Homo sapiens: one gene and its partners. The protein of the gene in region 1 purifies or fractionates together with the protein of each later gene. This does not show direct contact. Each region holds a gene or a part of one and is shown in the gene's direction. Other genes may lie near its edges.

The links.
Region 2: the proteins of MARK3 (region 1) and FUCA1 purify together in Homo sapiens (affinity purification with mass spectrometry, with the first as the bait; one large-scale study listed by BioGRID). This does not show direct contact.
Region 3: the proteins of MARK3 (region 1) and PPM1G purify together in Homo sapiens (affinity purification with mass spectrometry, with the first as the bait; one large-scale study listed by BioGRID). This does not show direct contact.
Region 4: the proteins of MARK3 (region 1) and SNTB2 purify together in Homo sapiens (affinity purification with mass spectrometry, with the first as the bait; one large-scale study listed by BioGRID). This does not show direct contact.
Region 5: the proteins of MARK3 (region 1) and DTNA purify together in Homo sapiens (affinity purification with mass spectrometry, with the first as the bait; one large-scale study listed by BioGRID). This does not show direct contact.
Region 6: the proteins of MARK3 (region 1) and MTCL1 purify together in Homo sapiens (affinity purification with mass spectrometry; 2 studies listed by BioGRID and IntAct, with this or other methods). This does not show direct contact.
Region 7: the proteins of MARK3 (region 1) and G3BP2 purify together in Homo sapiens (affinity purification with mass spectrometry; one large-scale study listed by BioGRID and IntAct). This does not show direct contact.

Annotation. Positions count from the first base shown.
Region 1 is NC_000014.9:103,486,415-103,489,914, forward strand, and holds part of MARK3 (MAP/microtubule affinity-regulating kinase 3), read left to right. Parts: intron 1-3,500. UniProt on the Homo sapiens protein: Serine/threonine-protein kinase. Involved in the specific phosphorylation of microtubule-associated proteins for MAP2 and MAP4. Phosphorylates the microtubule-associated protein MAPT/TAU. Phosphorylates CDC25C on 'Ser-216'.
Region 2 is NC_000001.11:23,847,934-23,851,290, reverse strand, and holds part of FUCA1 (tissue alpha-L-fucosidase precursor), read left to right. Parts: intron 1-2,451; coding exon 2,452-2,642; intron 2,643-3,357. UniProt on the Homo sapiens protein: Alpha-L-fucosidase is responsible for hydrolyzing the alpha-1,6-linked fucose joined to the reducing-end N-acetylglucosamine of the carbohydrate moieties of glycoproteins.
Region 3 is NC_000002.12:27,399,592-27,403,091, reverse strand, and holds part of PPM1G (protein phosphatase 1G), read left to right. Parts: intron 1-3,500.
Region 4 is NC_000016.10:69,242,664-69,246,163, forward strand, and holds part of SNTB2 (beta-2-syntrophin), read left to right. Parts: intron 1-2,938; coding exon 2,939-3,152; intron 3,153-3,500. UniProt on the Homo sapiens protein: Adapter protein that binds to and probably organizes the subcellular localization of a variety of membrane proteins. May link various receptors to the actin cytoskeleton and the dystrophin glycoprotein complex.
Region 5 is NC_000018.10:34,716,798-34,720,297, forward strand, and holds part of DTNA (dystrobrevin alpha), read left to right. Parts: intron 1-3,500. UniProt on the Homo sapiens protein: May be involved in the formation and stability of synapses as well as being involved in the clustering of nicotinic acetylcholine receptors.
Region 6 is NC_000018.10:8,824,056-8,827,555, forward strand, and holds part of MTCL1 (microtubule cross-linking factor 1), read left to right. Parts: intron 1-115; coding exon of another isoform or gene 116-161; exon of another isoform or gene 162-303; intron 304-643; coding exon 644-2,177; intron 2,178-3,499; coding exon of another isoform or gene 3,500-3,500. UniProt on the Homo sapiens protein: Microtubule-associated factor involved in the late phase of epithelial polarization and microtubule dynamics regulation.
Region 7 is NC_000004.12:75,645,912-75,649,411, reverse strand, and holds part of G3BP2 (ras GTPase-activating protein-binding protein 2), read left to right. Parts: intron 1-670; coding exon 671-773; intron 774-2,254; coding exon 2,255-2,383; intron 2,384-2,955; coding exon 2,956-3,074; intron 3,075-3,500.

The DNA of each region.
Region 1 (3,500 bases):
GACGGTAGAGCCAGACCCAGTCTCAAAAAAATAAAAATAAAAAAATTAATGTAATACAGCTACTATGAACCCACAAAAACTTTAAAAAAATTTTTTAATTATTAAAAAAATGTAATGCTGCTACTGTTTTGCTTATGTAGATTGTGGGCTAGAATAGGAAATAAAACTATCATTTTTAACACTTTTCTGGGGGGAAATATTATTCGAATTTCATAACAATTAGCTTGATGACCTTTTAGAATATATATGTAGACCATTGTGATGTTGGGGCTGCCTGTTGTAAATAGGATTTTTGTGAGCTTGATTGTACAAAATTGAAATTTGCAAACATCTTACTGAGTTTACTGTTTCCTTCTGGGTGTTAGGCCTACTGTAGAAATCAGAAAAATCGGAAATATTTTGTTGCTTGCTTTGTGAAACTCATGATGTGACATGGATTAAATTTCTAAAAAGTTTATTTAATTGCCTTTAAAATTAGTATGTCAAAAAGTTTATTTATTTATTTATTTATTTATTTTAATTTGAAACAGTCTCTCTCTGTCACCCAGACTGGAGTTTAGTGGCATGATCTCAGCTCACTGCAGCTACCACCCCCGGGTTTAAACGATTCTTATACCTCAGCCTCCTGAGTAGCTAGGATTACAGGGGCCCGCCACCACACCCAACTAATTTTTGTATTTTTAGTAGTGATGGGTTTTTGCCATGTTGGCCAGGCTGGTCTGGAACTCCTGGCCTCAAGCAATCCACCCGCCTCAGCCTCCCAAAGTGCTGGGATTACAGGCGTGGGCCACCACGCCCAGCCTCAAGTTAATAATTTATAATCCCAGCACTTTGGGAGGCCAAGACGGGCGGATTGCCTAAGCTCAGGAGTTCCAGACCAGCCTGGGCCATGACGAAACCCTATCTCTACAAAATTTTTTTTTTTAATTTATAATGAGAAAATAAATTTACATTTCCTTCTTAGGTCTCTAGAGGATCCATTTTTTTTCTGCAAAGCATCTGTCCACACCCTCTTACCATGCTTGTATGCCTTAAAGATCTAGCTTGGCCTGTCAGCAGTGTGCTTCATTGGGAATCGATGCAGCACCCTCCTGCCTGCAAGCTGACTAAAAGCCTTTTCCTTCTCCAAAGACTTTGGGACCATTTGTATTCACCAGGGAAAGGGTCAAACAACTCCTGCATCTTCTTCCCCTGCTTTTCTTGGCACATCTACTGATACTAGCTCCTAATTTGGGCAAGAAAAAAGTCAACAACTGGAGGTAGAGTGTGTTGACCCTGGACTCACCCTGAAAGGTAAGGGCACAAGAGATAGTTGTATTTAGCTGTATCTTGTTAGAAAAATACATTTGTGTAGCCAGGCGCGGTGGCTCACACCTGTAATCCCAGCACTTTGGGAGGCTGAGCCGGGTGGATCACGAGGTCAGGAGTTCAAGACCACCCTGGCTAACATGGTGAAATCCCGTCTCTACGAAAAATACAAAAAATTAGCCGGGCGTGGTGGTGGGTGCCTGTAGTCCCAGCTACTTGGGAGACTGAGGCAGGAGAATGGCGTGAACCCAGGAGGCAGAGCTTGCAGTGAGCAGAGATCACACTGCACTCCAGCCTGGGCGACAGAGTGAGACTCCGTCTCAAAAAAAAAAAAATAAATAACATTTGTGTGCATTCATGTGTACGTGTGTCTGTACACATGTACAAGAAACAACCGAGCATTTCTTTAAAAACCTTAGTCAGTTAGAACTGTCTCTGTTGCAGGTGACAGAAAACCCAGTCTAAACAGGCTTAAATATAAAAGGGCTGTTAGTTCATATAACTAAAAAAAGTCCAGGGCTAGAGTTACGGTCCATCTGCTTCTGCCTCCTTGGCCGTAGTTCCATGATTGGGCTCGGCACCATCAGACATAACTTCTTCCCACACACAGCTGTGCTCAAGCAGAAGCCCTCAGGTGGTCTCCTTGATCTGTGTGGGGCCTAGAGTTACTTCCACCACAGCAAAATCTCATTATTGTTGCTGCAGGAAAAGAATGGATACTGAGTGGCAGAAATACGAAACTGGATAAATTTTTGCCTTTATAAGACATTTGTTTCCAGTCCTTCTCAGACTGTATAAATTCTCCCAAGTCAGAGAGCAGAATTCTCAAACAAAAATGCAGGGACAGAACCAGGCACAGTGGCTCACAAGGCCTATAATCCCAGCACTTTGGGAGGCTGAGGCAGAAGGATCAGTTGAACCCAGGAGTTCAAGACCAGCCTAGCCATCATAGTGAGACACCATCTCTACAAAAAATTTAAAAATTAGCCAGGCATAGTGGCACACTCCTGTGGCTGAGATAGGAGGATCGCTTGACCCCAGGAGGTTGAGGCTGCAGCAAGCTGTGATAGTGCCACTGCACTCTAGCCTGGGTGAATACAGCAAGACCCTGTCTCCAAAAATAAAAATTTAAATAAAAATGTTTTAATTCAGGGACAAGCAGTTCTTGATTTTAAAGACGTATCTGCTTTATGTTGGGGCTATCAGAATTCCAGTTGCTAATTGATTAATCTGCTCTGTTAGGAGAACGTTTGTTGAATACCTGCCCTGCCAGGCTTTCTGCTTACACTGGTGGGGGGCACATTGACAAGATTTTGGGCTGTGTTTTCAGGGACCTCCAGCAGAGAAGGGTCACTAGGATACAATGTGGCATGCATGAGCTAAAAACAGAAGTGATTTAACTCTCAGAGGGAAAATGGATCAGATAACACTTCATAGAGATGACGACATCTGGTTCATTTTTGAAGAGTGAATAGAAAGATCCCAGCCCTCCATACCAAGAGAATAACTCCTGCAAACATTTTCTGACCTGGTGCCTGACCAATGGACCACACATCATCAGGAAGGCTAGAAAGTTGAGTTCCAGGAGGGAATGATAGAAGGCAAAGCCTAGAGAGATGGCAGGGGCCAGACTTCAGGGGCCTGGGGATGTGTACTTGCACTCCAAGTCGAGGAGACTGAACTTTTTACCAAAGACTTGGTGTTCTGTAGAAGTATGAGCAGATGAGTGACAAGATCTGGTTTATATGTTAAGAAGTTCTCAGCTGTAAGGTGAATAGATTGGAGGTGTTGGGGCAAAGGCAGGGGACCCAGTGAAGACAAGGAGCGAGGCTCTATACTGAGGCCCTGGTAGAAGTGGAGCAGATGGGCCACCTGAAGAGCTACTAGGAAGTTGACACCAATAAGATGTCGTTAGTCTGTGTATGGGGAGTGAGGGAAAGGAAGAACTTGCCAGTTTCCAGGTTTTAATCCTTCCAAAGGATTTCTGCAGAAAGACACTGGAAGAGCTGTATTCCTACTTATCCTTAAAGGAAAGAAACTGCCCTTGAATTCCAAGGACATGATTACTGAGCTGGAATTCCAAATAATGTGTCCCAGTGAGACTCCTGGGGGTAGTTTTGTCCGGTAACTGTGTGTGTTAGATGAAACTGCAGACTTCCAGCCACTCTATCTTACCATGTCTGTTAACAGTT
Region 2 (3,357 bases), on another chromosome or scaffold:
CCGGGTTCAAGCAATTCTCCTGCCTCAGCCTCCCGAATAGCTGGGAATACAGGCACGTGCCACCATGCCCAGCTTATTTTTGTGTTTTTAGTAGAGACAGGGTTTCTTCATGTTGGCCAGGCTTGTCTCGAACTCCTGGTAACCATAAAAATGTTGACAAATTTAATATGGGTTAATGTTTAGAGCACTGAATGAAAAAACAGTTACATATTGGCTGGGCACAGTGGCTCATACCTGTAATGCCAACACTTTAGGAGGCCAAGGTGGGAGGATCCTTTGAGGCCAGGAGTTCAAGACCAGCCTGGCCAAAATAGAAAGACCCCATCTCTATTATTATTATTATTTTTAATAAAGTTACATATTGGCTGGGCATGGTGGTGGCTCACACTTGTAACTCCAACACTTTGGGAGACCAAGACAAGAGGATTGCTTGAGGGCAGGAGTTTAAGACCAGCCTAAACAACATAGTGAGACCCCATCTCTATTTTAAAAAATAAAAATAAGTGGCCAGGCACGGTGGCTGACACCTGTAATCCCAGCACTTTGGGAGGCCAAGGAGGGTGGATCACAAAGTCAGGAATTCGAGACCATCCTGGCCAATGTGGTGAAACCCCGTCTCTACTAAAAAATACAAAAAAAATTAGCTGGGCGTGGTGGCACATGCCTATAATCCCAGCTACTCAGGAGGCTGAGGCAGGAGAATTGCTTGAACCCAGGAGGCAGAGGTTGCAGTGAGCTGAGATTGCGCCACTGCACTCCAGCCTGGGTGACAGAGCTAGACTCCGTCTGAAACAAAAATTTTTTTTAAATAATAATAAATAAATAAAATAAGTTACATATTATTACAACTATATAAAATTAACTACATAGGAAAAAGACTAGAAGAAGACATCAAAAGTTAATGGTGTGGTGTCACTTGGAGTACTGTAATGAATTCTTATAATGAATTCTTTAATTCTTTTTTTTTTTTTTTTGAGATGGAATTTCGCTCTTGTTGCCCAGGCTGGAGTGCAATGGCACGATCTCAGCTTGCTGCAACCTCCACCTCCCGGGTTCAAGTGATTCTCTTGCCTCAGCCTCCCGCATAGCTGGGACTACAGGTGCCTACCACTGTGCCCAGCTAATTTTTGTATTTTTAGTAGAGACAGGGCCTTCACCACGTTGGCCAGGCTGGTCTCAAACTCCTGACCTCAGGTAATCCACCTGTCCTGGCTTCCCAAAGTGCTGGGATTACAGGTGTGATCCACCATGCCTGTCTGAATTCTTCAAATTCTGTAATGAATTTAAAATTTTCTCTATATAACCTTAGTTTTTCTGAGCTGCCTGGATATGTATAATACCTGTTCAAGGTCACAGTAAAAACACACACACCCAAATCCCACTCCAGAAGTCTTAAAGAATGTATCTCTTGGCTGAGCACGGTGGCTCACACCTGTAATACCAGCACTTTGGGAGGCTGAGATAGGTGGATCACAAAGTCAGGAGTTCAAGACCAGCCTGGCCAACATAGTGAAACCCCATCTCTACTAAAAATACAAAAATTAACTGGGCATGGTGGTGCGCACCTGTAGTCCCAGCTACTCGGGAGCCTGAGGCAGGAGAATCACTTGAACCCAGGAGGCGGAGGTTGCAGTGAGCCGAGATTGTGCCACTGCACTCCAGCCTGGGAGACAGAGCAAGAGTCCGTCTCAAAAAAAAAAAAAAAAAAAAAAAAAGAACGTATCTCTTTATAGCAGTTTTCCCAAAGGGGCAGCATGTTCATTTATATAGCCCAATGCGTAAGGAATGTCCTGAAATTCTCAGCTTCCCTGCCCACACCTCATGTTTCTGGGGCATGACCCTTCCCACTGCACTCAGCACCATGAGAAGTACAGTGTCACAGGAAGTGCTCCATGGCCACTCCCTGAAATTCAAGTTAATATAATATAGCCTGATTTTTCATTTACTCACATGAGCCTAACCTGCTTTTATAGTGACAAAAATATATATAGAGAGAGAATTTTTAGCTCAGGTGCGGTGACTCATGCTTGTGATCCCAGCACTTCGGGAGGCCAAGGCAGGCAGATCACCTGAGGTCAGGAGTTTTGAGACTGGCCTGGCCAACGTGGTGAAACCCTGTCTCTACTAAAAATAGAATGATATTAGCTGGATGTGGTGGCGCATGCCTGTAATTCCAGCTACTCAGGAGACTGAGGCAGGAGAATCGCTTGAACAGGGAGGTGGAGGTTGCAGTGAGCCGAGATGCAGTTGAGCCAAGATCACGCCATTGCACTCTAGCCTGGGCGACAAGAGTGAAACTCCAGCTCAAAAAGAAAAAAAAAAAAATTAAAACAGCAGAGGATATTTAAAAAACAGAGTGTGCCCTAGATTCTTTTTCTTCTCTGTCTATTTTAAGCATGATGCCAGGCTTGGCATTCATAGCTAGACTTTCATTGTTTCTGTTCTCTCCAGGAACTGGTTCAGACAGTAAGTTTGGGAGGCAACTATCTTCTGAACATTGGACCAACTAAAGATGGACTGATTGTTCCCATCTTCCAAGAAAGGCTTCTTGCTGTTGGGAAATGGCTGAGCATCAATGGGGAGGCTATCTATGCCTCCAAACCATGGCGGGTGCAATGGGAAAAGAACACAACATCTGTATGGTGAGTCTTGTCTTCTGTTGTGTGTAAGAACAGAACAGTGCCCCATCCGGAACTGGTATCTCCTTGGGTCCACAATGTCACAAGCCAGGCTGGAAGTTGCCTTGAGAAAATCCAGAAGGTTATTTTCCTATAAAATTTGTACCCCATTTGAGTTATGTCTCAGGCTACTTGGTTATCTTTGACTAGTGAAGGGAGAGAGTGGGTTTGGTGAAAAGGGAAGGAGCAACAAAGCATCAGTCAATTTATTGAGATTATTACCCTGCCCCCTAAAAATAGTAATAATGAATGCTTGGATTGTACGGAGCCCCATCCAAAATTCTTTCCATTCATACTTGGACTTCTGGATCTAGTTATTTGATCTTGGGCCCCATTTTTTCCACTGCAGAATGGAGTGATGATGCTTTATAGTGTTGTGAGGATTAAATGAGATGAGTGCCAGGCACAAACTCAGTGTTCAATTAAAGGGAACTGCTTTTATTATACCAGAGAGCTTAGGTCTCTGGATCTAATCCCTCTATTAATCCCTCTGTTTTGGATGAGTTTCTGTTTAGTGGTTGTCTTAGTCCATTTTCTGTTGCTATAACTGAATCCCACAGGCTGGATTTTTATTTTATTTTATTATTATTTTTTAGACAGTCTCACTCTGTCACCCAGGTTGGAGTACAGTGGCAGAATCTCAGCTCACTGCAACCTCTGCCTCCAAGGTTCAAGCAAT
Region 3 (3,500 bases), on another chromosome or scaffold:
AAGGAGTATGGGATTTCTTGTGCCGGTTCCTTCACATCCTCACTACACTTATCTGCCTTTACAGTGGCTCGATCATAGTTCACTGCATAGCCTTCTGGGCTCAAGGGGTCTTCCAGCCTCAGCCTAATATAGGCACATGCCACCATGACTGGCTAATTTTTTTTTTTTAAGTTTTTTTTTGTAGAGATAGGGCCTTGCAGTGTTGCCCAGGCTGAGGAATTTTATTTATGTTTATTTTATTTATTTATTTATTTATTTATTTATTTATTTATTTATTTATTTATTGAGATGGAGTCTTACACTGTCACCCAGGCTGGAGTGCAGTTGCGCGGTCTCAGCTACTGCAAGCTCCGCCTCCCGGGTTCATGCCATTCTCCTGCCTCAGCCTCCCGCGTAGCTGGACTACAGGCGCCCGCCACCACGCCTGGCTAATTTTTTGTGTGTGTTTTTAGTAGAGGCGGGGTTTCACCATGTTAGCCAGGATGGTCTCGATTCCTGACCTCGTGATCCACCCACATCGGCCTCCCAAAGTGCTGGGATTACAGGTGTGAGCCACCATGCCTGGTCTAGAAATTATTTTATATTTTATACCATTGCCTTATAAGTTCTCAAGCAACTGGAAAATACAATCAGAACGTATTCCTCAAGATTTCAAGGATATTTTACACAAAGTTCTATTGTCTGATTCCTTAGCAGTTGTTACTACTGTTTCCCTAACCTCTAATCTTCTATTGGGTTATTAGTCTTAGAATTGAATTTTGAGAGGTAAGGGCTTGAATTTGAACATAGAAATTTATACAGGTCTGATCAGTAGTTCTTGACATTGTATTATCTGGAAACAAATCTTTAGAACTGAGCTTAAGATGTTTAATGACATTTTGTAGACAGAGTATGATTTCAGTGTAGTTGTTTTTGTTTCTTTCTAGATCTAGTTCAGAGATGAAGTATATCAACTTTTTTTTCCTTTTTGACCCAATGCTAGCAGAAAAACAACACCTTTTAATCATATTTAGTATTTGAAAATGTGTATACAGGTTCCTTTTTATTTTATTTATTTCTTACAGGTTCCTTTTTAATCAGCTTTATTGAGATAGAGTTCATATACTGTATGGTTCATACCACATATGGTTCATATACCATACAGTATATGAACTCACTTTAAGAGTATAATTCAGTGGGTTTAAGGGTATAATTCATTCATTTTAAGGGTATAATTCAGTGGCTTTTAGTATATTTTCTTTTTTTTCTTCTTTTTTTCTTTTTTCGAGACAGGGTCTTGCTCTGTTACCCAGGCTGGAGTGCAGTGACGCAGCCTCAGCTCACTGCAACCTCCACCTCCCAGGTTCAAGCGAATTCTCTTGCCTCAGCATCCTGAGTAGCTGGAACTACAGGCTCACGCCACCACACCCAGCTAATTTTTATATTTTCAGTAGAAACAGGGTTTCACCATGTTGCCCAGGCTGGTCTCGAACTCCTGGCCTCAAGTGATCTGCCTGCCTCAGCCTCCCAAAGTGCTGGGATTACAGGCATGAGCCACCGTGCCTGCCTGTTTTGTAGTGTATTCAAACAGAGTTGTACAACTGTCACCACAATCAGTTTTAGAACCCCAAAAAGAAACCCTGTACTCTTTACCAGTCACTCCCTATCTTCCGTCCACTAACCCCTGGCATCCACTAATTTACATGACCTCTATGAATTTGCCTATTCTGAACATTTTATAAATGGAATTCTAAATACACTACCTTTTATATCTGGATGCTTTTACTAAGCATGTGTATTTTTGAAATTGACTTTAAAGCTTGTTGGCCCCTGGAAGAGTAAATTACTCTCCACCCCAAGTATTCCCTCTACCCCTCAGCTTTGCCTGTAAGTTTCTTTTTAAAAAAATCACACATACATTGTTGTAGTAGATTTAAGAATAAGTATTTTGCTGACCCAAGGTTCTTTTGCTTCTTTCTAGATCAGTGCCTTGCAGGTTTTATTTTACAGAGCTTAATAGAATCAGAAATCTCTTTAAAACTCCAGTCTCATATCCAGTTATCACTCACCATCTCTGTGTTTGCAGCAATAGCCAGGCCTGGCCCAGAGGGACTTGATCTCCACTTTTGGTTTTTAGACTTTTCTGTGGCTTTTACCACCTGCTGTGTATCCTTGACCTCATACTGCTGGACTCCTTTGGATGGATACCAGCAGGATGGTTCAGGCTCCAGTGGGCACTTTTTAAAATTCTCTCCTTCTGTTCAGATAGACAGAGCTCAGGCAGATCACCAAGTCTGTTGCCTGTGTAACCAGGAAAGAGATGCTAGTTTTCTTTTAGGCACTCCCATTTGTTTCTGTTGGAACCTTCCTCACTTAGTTGATGGAAGGGAAGCAAAAGACCCAGAACTCCATCTCAAATTAATGACTTAACAATTCTTGAATTTTCTCTTATCTCCTAGTTAACTCTTTTTCTTATCTCCAGGAGGTCAGTTTTAATTATTGTTGTTTATTCATTTATTTTCATGGAGACAGGGTCTTACTGTGTTGTCCAGGCTGGCCTTGAACCCCTGGCCTCAAGGAATCTTTTCACCTCAGCCTCCCAAAGTGCTGGAATTACAGGCATGAGTCACCACACCCAGCCTGATATTTTTCAGTTGATGTATCATAGTTGTGCCTAAGCATAATTTTTTAATTTTAATTTTTTATTTTTGGGGACAGGGTCTCCCTCTGTCGCCCAGGCTGGAGTGCAGTGATGCGATCTCAGCTCACTGCAACCTCCACCTTCTGGGTTAAAGCGATTCTCCTGCCTCAGCCTCCCGAGTAGCTGGGACTACAGGTACCCACCATCACACCCGGCTAAATTTTTTGTGTGTATTTTAGTAGAGACGAGATTTCGCTGTGTTGCCCAGGGCGGTCTCGAACTCCTGAGCTCAGGCAATCCGCCTGCCTCGGCCTCCCAAAGTGCTGGGATTACAGGCATGAACCACCACGCCCGGCCAAGCGTAATATTTTTAAGGGTCATCAATGTTGTGTCATGAATCAATCAGTGTTTCGTTCTTTTTTATGGTTGAATAATATTCCATGGTATGGATTTGTCACATTTTGTTTATCCATTCATTAGTTGATAGACATTTTGGATTTCCACTTTTTTTTTTTTTTTTTGCTATTATAAATAGTGATACTATGTACAAATTTTTGTGTGGAAATATGTCCTCATATCTCTTGGTTATATACCAAAGAGTGGAAGTGCTGGGTCATATGGTAACTACGTGTTTAACATTTTGAGAAACTGCTAAACTGTTTTCCAAAGTTGCTGTACCGTCGTACATTCCTGCCAGCAATATATGAGGATGCCAGTTCCTTCACATGTTCACTACACTTATCCACCTTTTTTATAATAACTAATGGTGGGTGTGAGATGGTATCTCATTGTAGTTTTGATTTGTATTTCTCTGATGGCTAAATGGCTAATGATGTTTGAACTTTTTGTTTGAGACAGAATCTCACTCTGTCCAGATTCA
Region 4 (3,500 bases), on another chromosome or scaffold:
AGAAGAGAAGGGATCACAGTAATGCTTTTGGGGTGGGAGGAAGCCCACCTTCACGTTCAGTAAAAGGGATACGTGAGGCCGGGCATAGTGGCTCAAGCCTGTTATCCCAGCACTTTGGGAGGCCAAGGCGGGTGGATCACGAGGTCTGGAGATCGAGACCATCCTGGCTAGCACGGTGAAACCCCGTCTCTACTAAAAATACAAAAAATTAGCCGGGCGTGGTGGCGGGCGCCTGTAGTCCCAGTTACTGGGGAGGCTAAGGCAGGAGAATGGCGTGAACCCAGGAGGCAGAGTTTGCAGTGAGCTGAGATTGTGCCACTGCACTCCAGCCTGGGCGACAGAGTGAGACTGCATCTTAAAAAAAAAAAAAAAAAAAAAGGGATACATGAATGGAAGAAAGAAAATTAGCTTCAGCATCTGAACACTCAAAACAGTTTGTAAACATCAGTGTTTAATTAAATTATTTTGAGGATTATCTTCAACTATCAGGAAAAATGAAATGATTCTGAAATATGTTGTGGATTCTGAGTTGAACTGAAAGCTCCATGTGGGGGTGTAAAGGCTCTGCTTATCCAGCCACGTGTCCAGGTTAAGGCCTTAACATAGGACTGAAACAGAAGACTGTTAACTTTTTGCCATTCCCAAACATAGAAACAGATGTCCATCCACAGCTCTTCAGCCATTCTGGATGGCTAATTAGATGGGGGTATGGACTGCATTGCCATCAACTCAGATAAAATTCATTGCTCTTTTAATAAGGCAATACATAAATTGTATGTGTATGTCTGTTTTTGTTTTAGGATGTGTGTAGTAATCAGTTCAGTGATGCTACTGTGTGATTGAATGAACTGAGTAGATCGTTAAGGGTTCTTTTCTAACCACTATATTATTCAAGAATTCATTTAGAATGTCTTTAATTTCCTCCAGTTGGTAGCCCAATAGTGTACTGCCTTAAATGTTCAAAAAGCATGCCTCTGCCATTTGCAGTAACTGGAAACCTTAGGAATTTCTGCCAAAGTCCTTCAAAGCATAAAGCTGAAGTATGTATTGAAATGCTTGAGTCAGCTGCTCAAGGGTTATACTGACTGCACTCCTGCTGATTTTTCTAGGGTAAAAAAATCTCCTTGGTGACCTGAGGCAGCTACCCAGAAGCACGTGTATTATAACTATGCACAAAAAGCACAGAGATATACTACATCTAAATTCTAGCATTGGAATTGTTATATTTTTTATTATTATACTTAATTTCAGTAAATCTTTTTTAATAACGTATAAGAAAATAACTTTAACTCTTCTACTGATTACCATTAAAATTTTTTAACTCTTCTCTAACTTTCTAATTTAGGGAAGGAAAAAGAAAGGTACCTACTGTATTTATTGAATGTTTAGTATGTGCCTGAAATTTTTATTTGCTTAGTGTTACTCCCATTTTGTAGATGAGGACCTCAGAACAGTTAAGTGCGGTCACATAGCTTTGAATAGCAAGCACAGTTAGGATTTGAACAAGGTCTTCTTGATTCCAAAGGCATCTCTATGACCACATCATGCTGTAGAATGAGCTATCAACTATTAGGCCTATAAAAGACTATCAACCTTATTAAATAAAAAAACTAAGGTGCAGCACGGTAAGCATAATGTACCACCATATGTATGATCAGATATACACGCATGTGTATGTGTTTATTTTCATACATGCTTAGCATACCAGGCATCTCTTTGAATGGTTGCCTCTAGGAATGGAGACAGGGTAGCTAGAAATCTGGACTTTTATTATAAAACCTTTTATACCTCTTGAGTTTTGTTTTATGTGCATGTATTACCTATTCACAGGAGAAACTGTGTGTACCACTGTGCCCAGCCAGTTTGTCTAGTTTTTGAAACAAGAACACCATGCCTCGAGTGACAGTAATTGTAGTCATGACTGAAGTAAAACAAGTATTTTATGAGTTTTAAATTTGAACTTAAAAAAGCTTCCTATCTACTAAAAGCTTGATTTTCATTTGGGGCCACATTAATGGAAATAGAGTATTTTGAACAAGCAAGGGGGATCAGTTGAGTTGGCTTTGTGCTTATTAGATCATACCTTATCTTGAATATACTTTATTTTTGCACTTGATTTTAAGAACTGTAATGGCCTGTTTACATAGCTGTCTCCCCTGCAAGGCTGGGCATTCCTTGAGGGATAGAATCCATGGCTCATTTGCCCTTGTGTCTTTACTGGCTAGCCTAATTCCCAACACTTGGTAGGTAGCTAATAAAAGTTGATTGAGTTGAATGGAAATAGAAATACTTAGCTTAGTATGGGGAGGAGAGAGAAGAGAAAAATCTGTCTTCAGATAATTACAGAGTTCTCATGTAGAAGAGAGATTAAGTTTGTTCTATATGGCTTGAGAAGACAGGGAACCAGTGGGTAGAAGTATGGAGAAGTTTCTAAAGGTTGAATCATCTAAAGCCTAGATGGGTCTGTCTTAGAATCTATCTCCAGGGGATTCATGGCTCTTTAACTTACTTTTTTCCCCCATTTTTTGTTTGTTTGTTTGTTTGTTTGTTTTTGAGGCAGAGTCTTGCTCTGTCGCCCAGGCTGGAGTGCAGTGGCACAATCTCACTGCAGCCACCGCCTCCCGGGTTCAAGCAATTCTCCTGCCTCAGCTTCCTGAGTAGTTGGGACTACAGGCGCATGCCACCACGCTCACCTAATTTTTTGTATTTTTGGTAGAGATGGGGTTTCACTACGTTGACCAGGCTGGCCTTGAACTCCTGACCTCAAGTGATCCACCCGCCTCGGCCTCCCAAAGTGCTGGGATTACAGGAGTGAGCCACCGCGCCCAGCTCTTTCCTCCACTTTGTTATAGATATAGCATGTATGTGAATACTTTAGTTATCATTTATTATAGGAAGCAAAATTACTAACCTTCTTCTTTGATTTTTTTGTTCATAGTCAAGTTCATCCGAGAAGTAACACCATATATCAAGAAGCCATCATTAGTATCAGATCTGCCGTGGGAAGGTGCAGCCCCCCAGTCACCAAGCTTTAGTGGCAGTGAGGACTCTGGTTCGCCAAAACACCAGAACAGCACCAAGGACAGGAAGATCATCCCTCTCAAAATGTGCTTTGCTGCTAGAAACCTAAGCATGCCGGATCTGGAAAACAGGTGAGGTGTACCTAACAAGAACATCATACCTACAGCTTTACAAACTTAAGGACATGTTGCAGTATTATATGACTCTGTTAACTCAGTTATACAGAGGAAAACATCTGTCTGAGGTGAGAGATGCATTTTTGGGGTTCCACATTTTAAGTTATTCTACATATATACATGTATATGTGTAGAAAAAATTTTGAACAGACACACAAGAAACTGTTAATGGCTTTACCTCTAGGGTGTCAAATAAGACTAAAGGGGTGAAAGAAAGAGGGGGCATCTTTTCTTCCTTTTATGTCTTTCTGTAATGTTGTTATTACTTTTTTCACTATGAATATGTATTACTTTATAATTGAA
Region 5 (3,500 bases), on another chromosome or scaffold:
TGTGAATCCCTTTACCCATGTATATGTGTTTGTCTTCACCGCTGATTTGCAAATAAGAAGTCTCATATCAAGTGGGAAGGGTAGATTTTTATAATTTCACTGAAATTCAATACCAAATGGTAAAATCTGGAATGCCTTGACTGTGAGAGAAAATAACAAAATATTTTAAATAGGGTATACATTCCAATTATTAGTTTTTGAAATTTATTCTAAAGAAATTTCTGCTCATATAAGGATGGGCAGAGGATAACTGGGCTTGAATAACTGGGCCACACCTACATTTAGGTGTGGTGGAGAGGCAGAGCTCCAGAGCAATCTGTTCAAAATTCTGTGATGCTGGAAATGCTCTATATCTTCTTAGTCCAATATAGTAACTACTAGCCACATGTGGCTATTAAACACTTGAAAGGTAGCTAGTGCGACTGATGAAACAGATTTCAAATCTTATTTAATGCTAAGTAATTGAAATAGCCACGTGTGTCTAGTGCTATCTTAATAGACAGTGACACTCTAGAATTAAGCACAACAAATAGGGTCTTTTATTTAATATCGGAGGTTAATTTCAAGCACCTCTGCTAAATTCGGATGATATAGATAGGACAAGAAGGTGAGTATTCTTTGTGCAATTTCCCTTTTATCTACAGAAATACAGATCAATGAAATCCTTTGATTCTAGTGACTGCAAGTCCAAGATTTTCCAGAGAAGTGTTGGTCTCAAGTAGTCTGTAGTTTTGTTTGCTTAAGAATTTTAATGCTCATTCATTTTCTCATTTATTTTTTTTAAAAAACCTTATATTGAATATATTTGTGTTGGACACTGACATTGAAAAGATAGTAGTAGTGCAGAGTTCCTTGATTCAGGAAATCCTTGGAGTATCCTAAGGAGTAAATGGTGCAGAGCAGATATTACAGAGGAGGGGAGAGAAAATGCTGTGTGGAGAAGGAAGCACTGGGATAAACCTTAAAGAAATGGCCAGTGTTCAATAGGAAGCTGGGGAAAGGAGGATCTTGAGAAACAGAACAGTATGGGAAAACCAGGGAGAGATGAGAATCAGAAATGTCTGGAAATGTAATAATGGCAGCAGCACAGAAAATAGACTAGTGTGTAGACAGAAATGAGTCCAGAAGTTAATGTTACAATCCAGAACAAGTATGAGGGAGGTTATGAGCTAAGGGGATGAAAGTAGAATTTAAAAAGAGTAGATTTGAGAGGTGTTTTGTCTGTTGCTTCTCTTTACAATAAGTCAGGTAGAGAACAACTGATTTATCTTTTAAGCCCCCTTGAAAATTGTCGATTACTGCATACAATGCTGGAGCAGGATTTTTGTGGCCAAGGAAACTGAGCGTATCTTACAATATGCAAGTTTTTCAAACAGGACCAACTTACATAAATCATCCTCTTGGAAGTAGGCGCAACTACATCATGTATGTAGTTGAAATGTATGACACATGACAATTTTGTTTGGGGATGTAATGTAACTGAGGTGGAAACTTAATATTTATGAGACTTCCTCTTTCGTTAAAATCTTAACATTCTTTGATTTTGACAAATAGTGTTTTTATTTCTTCCAAAAATACAAGAATTTTAAAAGTATATAATTAGGCATCGTTTAGAAAGGTCAAAAAAGCAATCGTCTGTTGAATTTATGATTTGGGTACATTATTCTTCTCCAGTCTTTACCCCATTTTGATGGACTTTTTTCTCTTGGCAGTATATCCAGGTTCATTTATAGGTGGGAAGACAGTAGAAGCTGTTATTCCAGCATCAAAGCCCCCACTGTTTTCTAATAAGACGTTAGGTTTTATTTCTTCCAAAGCCTTATGATCACTGCAGTCAAAAAAAGAAGGGTGGAAAATGCAGAAAAATGGTGGAGGAGGTGGAGTATGGTCTTGGTCATAAAGAAATGAAAGGAGAAAGGTATTACTGAAGAGTATGGGCATTAGTCTGACTGTAAGGAGGACTTTGGCAGTAACTACAAGCCAGAGTGAGTGAGGAAAGAATAGCAGCCATTTGGGCAATGTGCTGACCATGTGTGGCTTGATACTAGGAAACCTGAACATACAGCAGGACAGAGAGGAGCACATCATGTGAGAGTTCCATGAGTTCTCGGATTTAAGAAAATAGAAGACTTTCTAAGTGCCAGATACTGTTCTAAGTACTTTTTGTTTAACCTATTTAAGGCAATTAACCCTTTTTTTTTGGAGAACAGTCATAGAACATGGAAATCACTGAAGAAATGTAAGTAGTGGTGGGATGCAGTGGCTCACGTCTGTAATCCCAGTACTTTGGGAGGCTAAGGTGGGTGGATCACCTGAGGTCAGGAGTTCAAGACCAGTCTGGCACCAACATGGCGAAACCCCGTCTCTACTAAAAATACAAAAACAAAACAAAAACTAGCCAGGCATGGTGGTGTGGGTCTACTGTAGTCCCAGCTACTCAGGAGGCTGAGGCAGGAGAATCACTTGAACCAGGGAGGTGAAGGTTGCAGTGACCCCAGATCGCACCACTGCATTCTAGCCTGGGTGACAGAGTGAGACTTCATCTCAAAAAATAAAAAAATAAAAAAATAAGTAGTTATTATCTCTCCATCAATCCTCACAACAACCCTATGAGCAGGGTACTTTTACCATCTTTATTTTACAGATGAAGAAATTAAGGCCCGAGAGGTTAAGTAATCCCCCAAACAGCATACAGTTAATCAGAGAGAGCTCTATTTAATCAGCTCAACTACTACGCCATCCTGCCTACTCTTAATCTATGTTAATTTTATAATATGTACAGAGATGATACTTGTAACGTGCTCACAAAGTGCCTGACATATAGTAAACCTGCAAAAATGTTAGCAATTATCATTATGTAATAAGATTTAGAAGACTTTCCGGTATTTATGTCATTCTACACCGACACTGCTCAGAAATAGTAACAAGATTTTTAGGGCAGCTCTGGATTTTTCTTATGTAAAGTGTAAAGAAAGCTTTGTTTAGGAGCATGCCCTTATAAATTGGAGAAACTCTTCTTCTACCCAAATACTGTCAATCAGTTTGACTGGCACAGTTGAAGTTTTTACCTCAAAGAATGGGCCTCATTGAAATGTTCTATATACTCATCTACATGGCTCTGACCTTCTGACAGAGAATGACTGCTGCTAATGGTACTAATAAGAGCAAATGGAATTCCCTTCCAAGCTTGGTATTTGAATAATATGTCAATTTGTTCATTGCCGTCTTACTAGGAATTAAATGCGCTAATATTTTTATAACCTAAGGGAGCTAGTGCGAGGTTGGCAGCCAGAAAAGGGAATCAGGCCAGAGGCTGGCCAAGGCATAGTCATGAGGGGGTGGAAGGGTCACAAAGTCAAAGTCAAGCAGGTGGACCCAGGCAGAACCCAACCAGACTCTAGAACAAAGTTAGGTTCAAAGTTTGGTTCTTATCTCCTTTCCCTATAATGTGGGCTGGTAGGGGTGGGTTGATTGTCATCCTCTGTACAAAAAGAATTGTA
Region 6 (3,500 bases), on another chromosome or scaffold:
AGAGGTTCTGTTGCCTGAGCCAGCAGGCACAGGCAGCCCCAGCCCCGTTCCTGACCACCACTTCTTTGCCCTGGTGGTAGTCGTGCCCGAGCACTCCGGCCACTTTCTGTCTTAGCCTGGAAGCATTGCTGGCACCCCTGCAGCACCTGCCAGGCATGTGAGAGGCATTCAGCGAACTCATGGCAAATTGAAAGTGCTAACACATGGAAGAATCCACACCAAATCTGTGTCCATCAGGTGGCAGCTTGCCAAAACCTGGCCATCGCCGTGGCTCACCGTCTTCACCCTTCAGCTGTGGTCCGAGTGAGTCTCCTGAGAATTCTCACTGAGGCACTGAGGCCTCAAGTGATTCTCCTGTCTTGGCCTCCCAAAGTGTTGGGATTACGGGTGTGAGCCAGAGTTGGTTGTATTAAATTCTGACCAATGCAAGGCTTCAGGAACAATTCCAGAGCCACGCAGAGTCCAATAAATGCCCGCAGGGTAAGTCTGTGAGTGCAGCACATGAGCAGCTGACAGTGTTCTCCTGGTGTGGGTGGCAGCGGGTGCCTTCACTGACACTTCTCATGCAGGGCAGGACATGGGTGTTGTGGTGTGTCAGAGGCTCCCTGGCAGGTACTGACACCCTCTTTTCTGCTTTTCCCAGGGCGGTGTCCGTGTCCTCCATGTCTGAGTTCCAGCGTCTAATGGACATCTCCCCCTTCCTGCCTGAGAAGGGCCTGCCGTCCACCAGCAGCAAGGAGGATGTCACCCCACCCCTGTCTCCAGACGACCTCAAGTACATCGAGGAGTTCAACAAGAGCTGGGACTACACACCCAACAGGGGCCACAATGGTGGGGGGCCGGACCTTTGGGCCGACAGGACCGAGGTGGGGCGGGCAGGGCACGAGGACAGCACAGAGCCTTTCCCCGACTCCTCCTGGTACCTAACCACAAGTGTCACCATGACCACGGACACCATGACCAGCCCAGAGCACTGCCAGAAGCAGCCACTGCGGAGCCACGTCCTCACCGAGCAGTCGGGGTTGCGCGTGTTACACAGCCCGCCTGCCGTGCGCAGGGTCGACAGCATCACGGCGGCAGGTGGTGAGGGTCCCTTTCCCACAAGCAGAGCCAGAGGGAGCCCGGGAGACACCAAGGGAGGCCCTCCAGAACCCATGCTCAGCAGGTGGCCTTGCACCTCCCCCAGGCACTCCCGGGACTATGTGGAGGGGGCACGGCGCCCCCTTGATAGTCCCCTCTGTACCTCCCTGGGGTTTGCCTCCCCACTGCACAGCCTGGAGATGTCCAAGAACTTGAGTGATGACATGAAGGAGGTGGCCTTCTCTGTCAGGAATGCCATCTGCTCCGGCCCTGGCGAGCTGCAAGTCAAGGACATGGCCTGCCAGACCAATGGGTCCCGGACGATGGGGACCCAGACTGTTCAGACCATCAGTGTGGGCTTGCAGACTGAAGCCCTGCGTGGCAGCGGTGTCACCAGCAGCCCCCACAAGTGTCTCACTCCAAAGGCTGGGGGCGGTGCTACACCCGTGTCGTCTCCTTCCCGGAGCCTTAGGAGCAGACAGGTGGCCCCTGCCATCGAGAAGGTGCAGGCCAAGTTTGAACGCACATGCTGCTCCCCCAAGTATGGTTCTCCCAAGCTGCAGAGGAAGCCCCTCCCCAAAGCCGACCAGCCAAATAACAGGACGTCACCAGGGATGGCCCAGAAAGGGTACAGTGAGTCAGCCTGGGCCCGCTCCACCACCACAAGGGAGAGCCCCGTGCACACCACCATTAATGATGGCCTCTCCAGCCTCTTCAACATCATTGACCACAGCCCCGTGGTGCAGGACCCCTTCCAGAAGGGGCTGCGGGCCGGCAGTCGGTCTCGCTCAGCAGAGCCCCGACCAGAGCTGGGCCCAGGCCAGGAAACAGGCACCAATTCCCGAGGAAGGTCGCCTAGCCCCATTGGGGTGGGGTCAGAGATGTGCAGGGAGGAAGGGGGAGAGGGCACGCCAGTGAAGCAGGACTTATCTGCTCCCCCTGGCTACACGCTCACTGAGAACGTGGCCCGGATCCTCAACAAGAAGCTGCTGGAACATGCCTTAAAGGAGGAGAGGAGGCAGGCTGCCCACGGGCCCCCGGGTCTCCACAGTGACAGCCACTCGCTGGGGGACACAGCCGAGCCAGGGCCCATGGAGGTAATGAATGCTGAGTGCCCCACACCCTTCCCCACCAGCTCTTCCCTTTAGCTGTGGGGCAGGTTGGGACTTGGGATTGTGCTCTGTCATTTGATCTCAGGAATCGTCCATGATTGGTTATTGGGAGCTGGGGAGGTGTTAGGTTTATGGGAGAATAGAATAGGCAGAAAAAGCCCTGAGCAACTTTTTTGAAGAAAATGTTATTTTATTGTCCTTGGGAAATCATATAGTACATGGTTTGATTTGGGTTCTGTCACCAGTCTTAAGTGATTGATCCTTATTTATCAGGGCATTTTATTTGGGGTCAGTTTGCCTTCTTTCTGTGTGAATTCGTGCACATGTACAAACTATGGGATAGTTGTGTCAGGCTTGCTGCATACTGCAGACCTTCATATGTGACAGCATGAGGTGAGCTGGAGAGGGTCTGGACCACATGAGCACGAGCACTTCTCATCAGGAGCCACAAGATCTCGATTCCTGGGCTGGCTTCCTTACAAAACAGCCATCTGGCAGCTCACAAATCACTTACCCTCTTTGTGGCCATGAGCCCCCCTAGCAGTAAAACCAAGTGAAACATATAGACAAAATCAAAATCCTACCCTAATACAATATGATTATCATTATTGCCCTTGATATTACTCACAAATCAATCCACTGTGAATTGGGTTCTGATGCACATCCACATGTGGTGTTTTTGTACACCACTTTACAAAACGCTTCCCATTTCCACTTCAACAATGAGCAAAATGAAAGCCTGATGTTGATGCTGGTGGTGATGGCTATGGTGATGCCACTTTGTGGTTCGTGCAGCACAGAGAGGACGTGTCTGTCCAGCGAGTGATTCCAACTCGCCAGGAGTCCGGATGAACAGGCTTCACACTGGGAACACCTGGCCCCATGAGCACTCTCCGAGCCAGGCTGCTCCCGCAGATGGCGGGGGTCAGAGGAGGAGGAGGACGGCAGCTTGCTCCTGGTCTGCCCGCTGCTTCCTCGCCAGGACCCAAGCAGCCCTGGCTTCATGGGCAGGGAGAGGAGGAAGGTGTATTGCCTGTTTCACCTGGCCCACGTTTCCCACAAGAGGGTAAATGATGGCTGTCTTCCCAGCCTGGCCCACCAATGAATGTTTAACTCAGAATGCAGGCTTGAAATCTGAATAGGTCAGACCTGTGGAACTGCCAATGGCTTACAGAAGTGGCAATTCCATATGGTTCACACCTAATACAAATATTGATACTACATGGCCTACATGTTCCAAGATCTGAGTCTTTGTGATAAAGTTGTTTGCATGCTCTGAGGACAAACTGCTGGTTGAATGTTCTCAGG
Region 7 (3,500 bases), on another chromosome or scaffold:
TCAAATGCATATTTTTCTCATAAGGAAGAACAGTAGGGAGCTAAAGGACTTTAACTATTTGAGATGCTACATACAAGTTCCTATAAGTTTCTGTCATTTTTTTAACATGCATTTTAACCTTACAGGTAGCAATTTCAGGTGTTAGAGCAAGCTAATTTTTATACTTTGAACTATAAAAATACTGATTTTAAGGTTATGGGCAGAGATTTAGGCAATACTACTGAGCACTGTTACATTTGAAGGATAGCAAATTAGATTTTCAGAAATTATGTGTTATGTATTCTTGTCTAAGATGAAGATGGCTTTTAATTTTGTTTATGTATTTACATGGAGTGGTTCATCTTGCATTTTTGTGATTTTTTTTTTTGGTAGCAATACCTTTTATGCTATTTCAGTGTTGATATAACTTTAATGAAAAAATGTGACTGTAAAAAGCAACTTATTGTGAGTTACACAGCATTAAGTGGGAAAACAAAAGCTACCTACAGTCCTAGATTGGTACAGAATATCTTGATAAAAATTTATTTTTCTCATACATAGGACACTATGTTAAAAACATTCTAAACTTAAAACTACTGTTATGTCTGCTAGTGACTTGTCGTTAGGTGCTTTGGTTGGTTTTTCTCCAGTGGAGTGTTTTTTATAATGTTTTTTTTTCTTTATATTTTAGCCAAGAGTCGAAGCTAAACCAGAAGTTCAATCTCAGCCACCTCGTGTGCGTGAACAACGACCTAGAGAACGACCTGGTTTTCCTCCTAGAGGACCAAGACCAGGTGAGTCAGCTCCTTTATAGCCTTTAGCATTTAACATTTGTAAGGCTGTAAAAGACTGAACTTAAACAAAAAACTATGATGCGTTCTATACACAGACCCATATAGTCTCAAATTGCTTAAAGATGTGATGTGAGCAACCTGCTAAATAGTGTCTGGGGCCAAATAACCAATTTTTAGGGAGGATTGGTTGACATGCCATGGTGACATATTTTGAAGGTGTAAAAGACTTAAGTCTTATTTGGTTATTGTCACGGTTTTTTGTTTTTTTTTTTTGTTTGTTTGTTTTTTTTTTGAGACGGAGTCTTGCTCTGTCGCCAGGCTGGAGTACAATGGCGTGATCTCAGCTCACTGCAACCTCTGTCTCCCGGGTTCAAATGATTCCCTTGCCTCAGCCTCCCAAGTAGCTGGGATTACAGGCACACGCCACCAGGCCCAGCTAATTTTCTGTATTTTAGTAGAGACAGGGTTTCACCATGTTGGCCAAGATGGTCTCGATCTGCTGACCTCATGATCTGCCCTACTCGTCCTCCCAAAGTGCTGGGATTACAGGCATGAGCCACTGTGCCCGGCCTAGTCACTGGTTTTAAGAGTTCAAAACCAAGCTGCCAATAACCTACTCTCTTAGCAGTCTTATCTCTTTACAGATAAACAATAAGCCCATTTTGATTCTTAGGTATTAAGTAAGTTGCCATGATTTTTGACTTGTTTACCTTGTTAGCTACACATGTAATACTTTTATTTGAACTCTGTAAGAATGTTTAGATTGCTTTGGGGAGGAGATGGGAGAGATGGAGATAGTATATATCACATTTACAATGTGAATTTTTAAAGTGATATGTTACCAAACTAGAAGTCCTAAATTTGTCAGTGATTAAACTTGGGATCTTGAGTGAAACCCTTAAATTCTGAGCTTCTTTTATGTCAAATATTACACAAATTATTCTTGTATTGCCTATTTTCCTCACTGTGTTCCTTGTGTTATTGGGAGAATCAAATAAGATTTTATGTATATCTATATACATACACACTTAATATGTATAGACTGCATAAATGTGATGATTGCTGTTAAAATTTACTGATTGCTGTAATGTCATAAAGCCAAAGAATTTTGAATTTCAAAAAACTAAGCAAATATTTAGTAAGCTATACCTCACTATCTGAAATCTGCTTGGTTCCTGGGTGATGGCAACAGTTTGGTTAAGGAGGAATACCTGTAGTACTAATATTTGATTTTTGTATAATCCAGTAGATCTAGAAGAAGCTATTTTAGCAACCTAGTCATTGTCCTCACTTTACATTTTAGTGTCATGCTGTTTTCTAACCTACTAGTAATAAGTACTTTTGCCTCTTTTTCAAGAAGCTCACCTAGTCTTATTAAACTAAAACAGGAATATCAATATTAAGTGATTTTTACATTCACTCCTTTGAAGTAGTTTTTATGATATTGTAAACTTTAGTATCTGCTCTATTTCTATTCTCAGGCAGAGGAGATATGGAACAGAATGACTCTGACAACCGTAGAATAATTCGCTATCCAGATAGTCATCAACTTTTTGTTGGTAACTTGCCACATGATATTGATGAAAATGAGCTAAAGGAATTCTTCATGAGTAAGTGATTTATTTTGCTGTTGGAGTTTTTAAATTATTTTAAATTAAGCAAGAGGCATATGGAGCTTTTTTAATAACTATTTTTTTTAAATGTTTCTCTCTTTATACTGTGTCCAGCTACCAGACCCACCTTAATTGTGCAGAAGGGAGTAGATGACTTATCTCACATGTTTCTCAGTGACTGCTTAGTGTTGATTTGGCCTGGCTCAGTAGTGTTTAGAAGAAACAGCTGGATAAATCAGTCATAAATTCAGAGATAAAGGATTCATTTGGCAAATGGGTCAATATATTAGGAGAAAATACATTGTCTTTCCAAAATTATGCAGTTAACTTTACTTATGAAAGGACTACCAAAGATGCAGAAAGGTAACACAGCAGGCGGGCAGGCTACTTGGTATCTTAGGGGATTGCCTGCTTGAGTAAACGTACCTTGGCTATCACTGTGTGTAGAAGCTTGCGAGTTTTATTTTAAAATGGATCGGGGAGATAACGATATTCATCCTGAACAATTAGAGCCATCAAGGTATTCTGTTAAAAATATTTAACCCTTGATGTAATGTATATTTTCACAGGTTTTGGAAACGTTGTGGAACTTCGCATCAATACCAAGGGTGTTGGGGGAAAGCTTCCAAATTTTGGTTTTGTGGTTTTTGATGACTCTGAACCAGTTCAGAGAATCTTAATTGCAAAAGTAAGTGATTTAAAGGGCATAATTCAAGACTTTATTATTTCTGTTGTATATATTAATTTGGGGTATTTAAAAACCATAGAAAATCTTTTAATAATAAAGCTAAAAATAGTTATTAAATGGTATTTATGCAAAGAATAAAGATTTGTTAGTTTGCAGATCATTTTAAATTTTGTTACTTGCTTTGCTGAAGAAGGTGGGAAAGATTGCAAGATTGCATGTTAAGAATTTTGGCTGGGTATAGTGGCTCACACTTGTAATCCCAGCACTTTGGGAAGTTAAGGCAGAAGGATTGCTTGAGCCCAGGAGAGTTCAAGACCAGCCTGGGCAACAGTGAGACATTGTCTCTACAAAAAAAGAAAAATAGCCGGCCATGGTGGTAGACACCTATAATCCCAGCTACTCAGGAGGCTGAGGTGGGAGTATCAC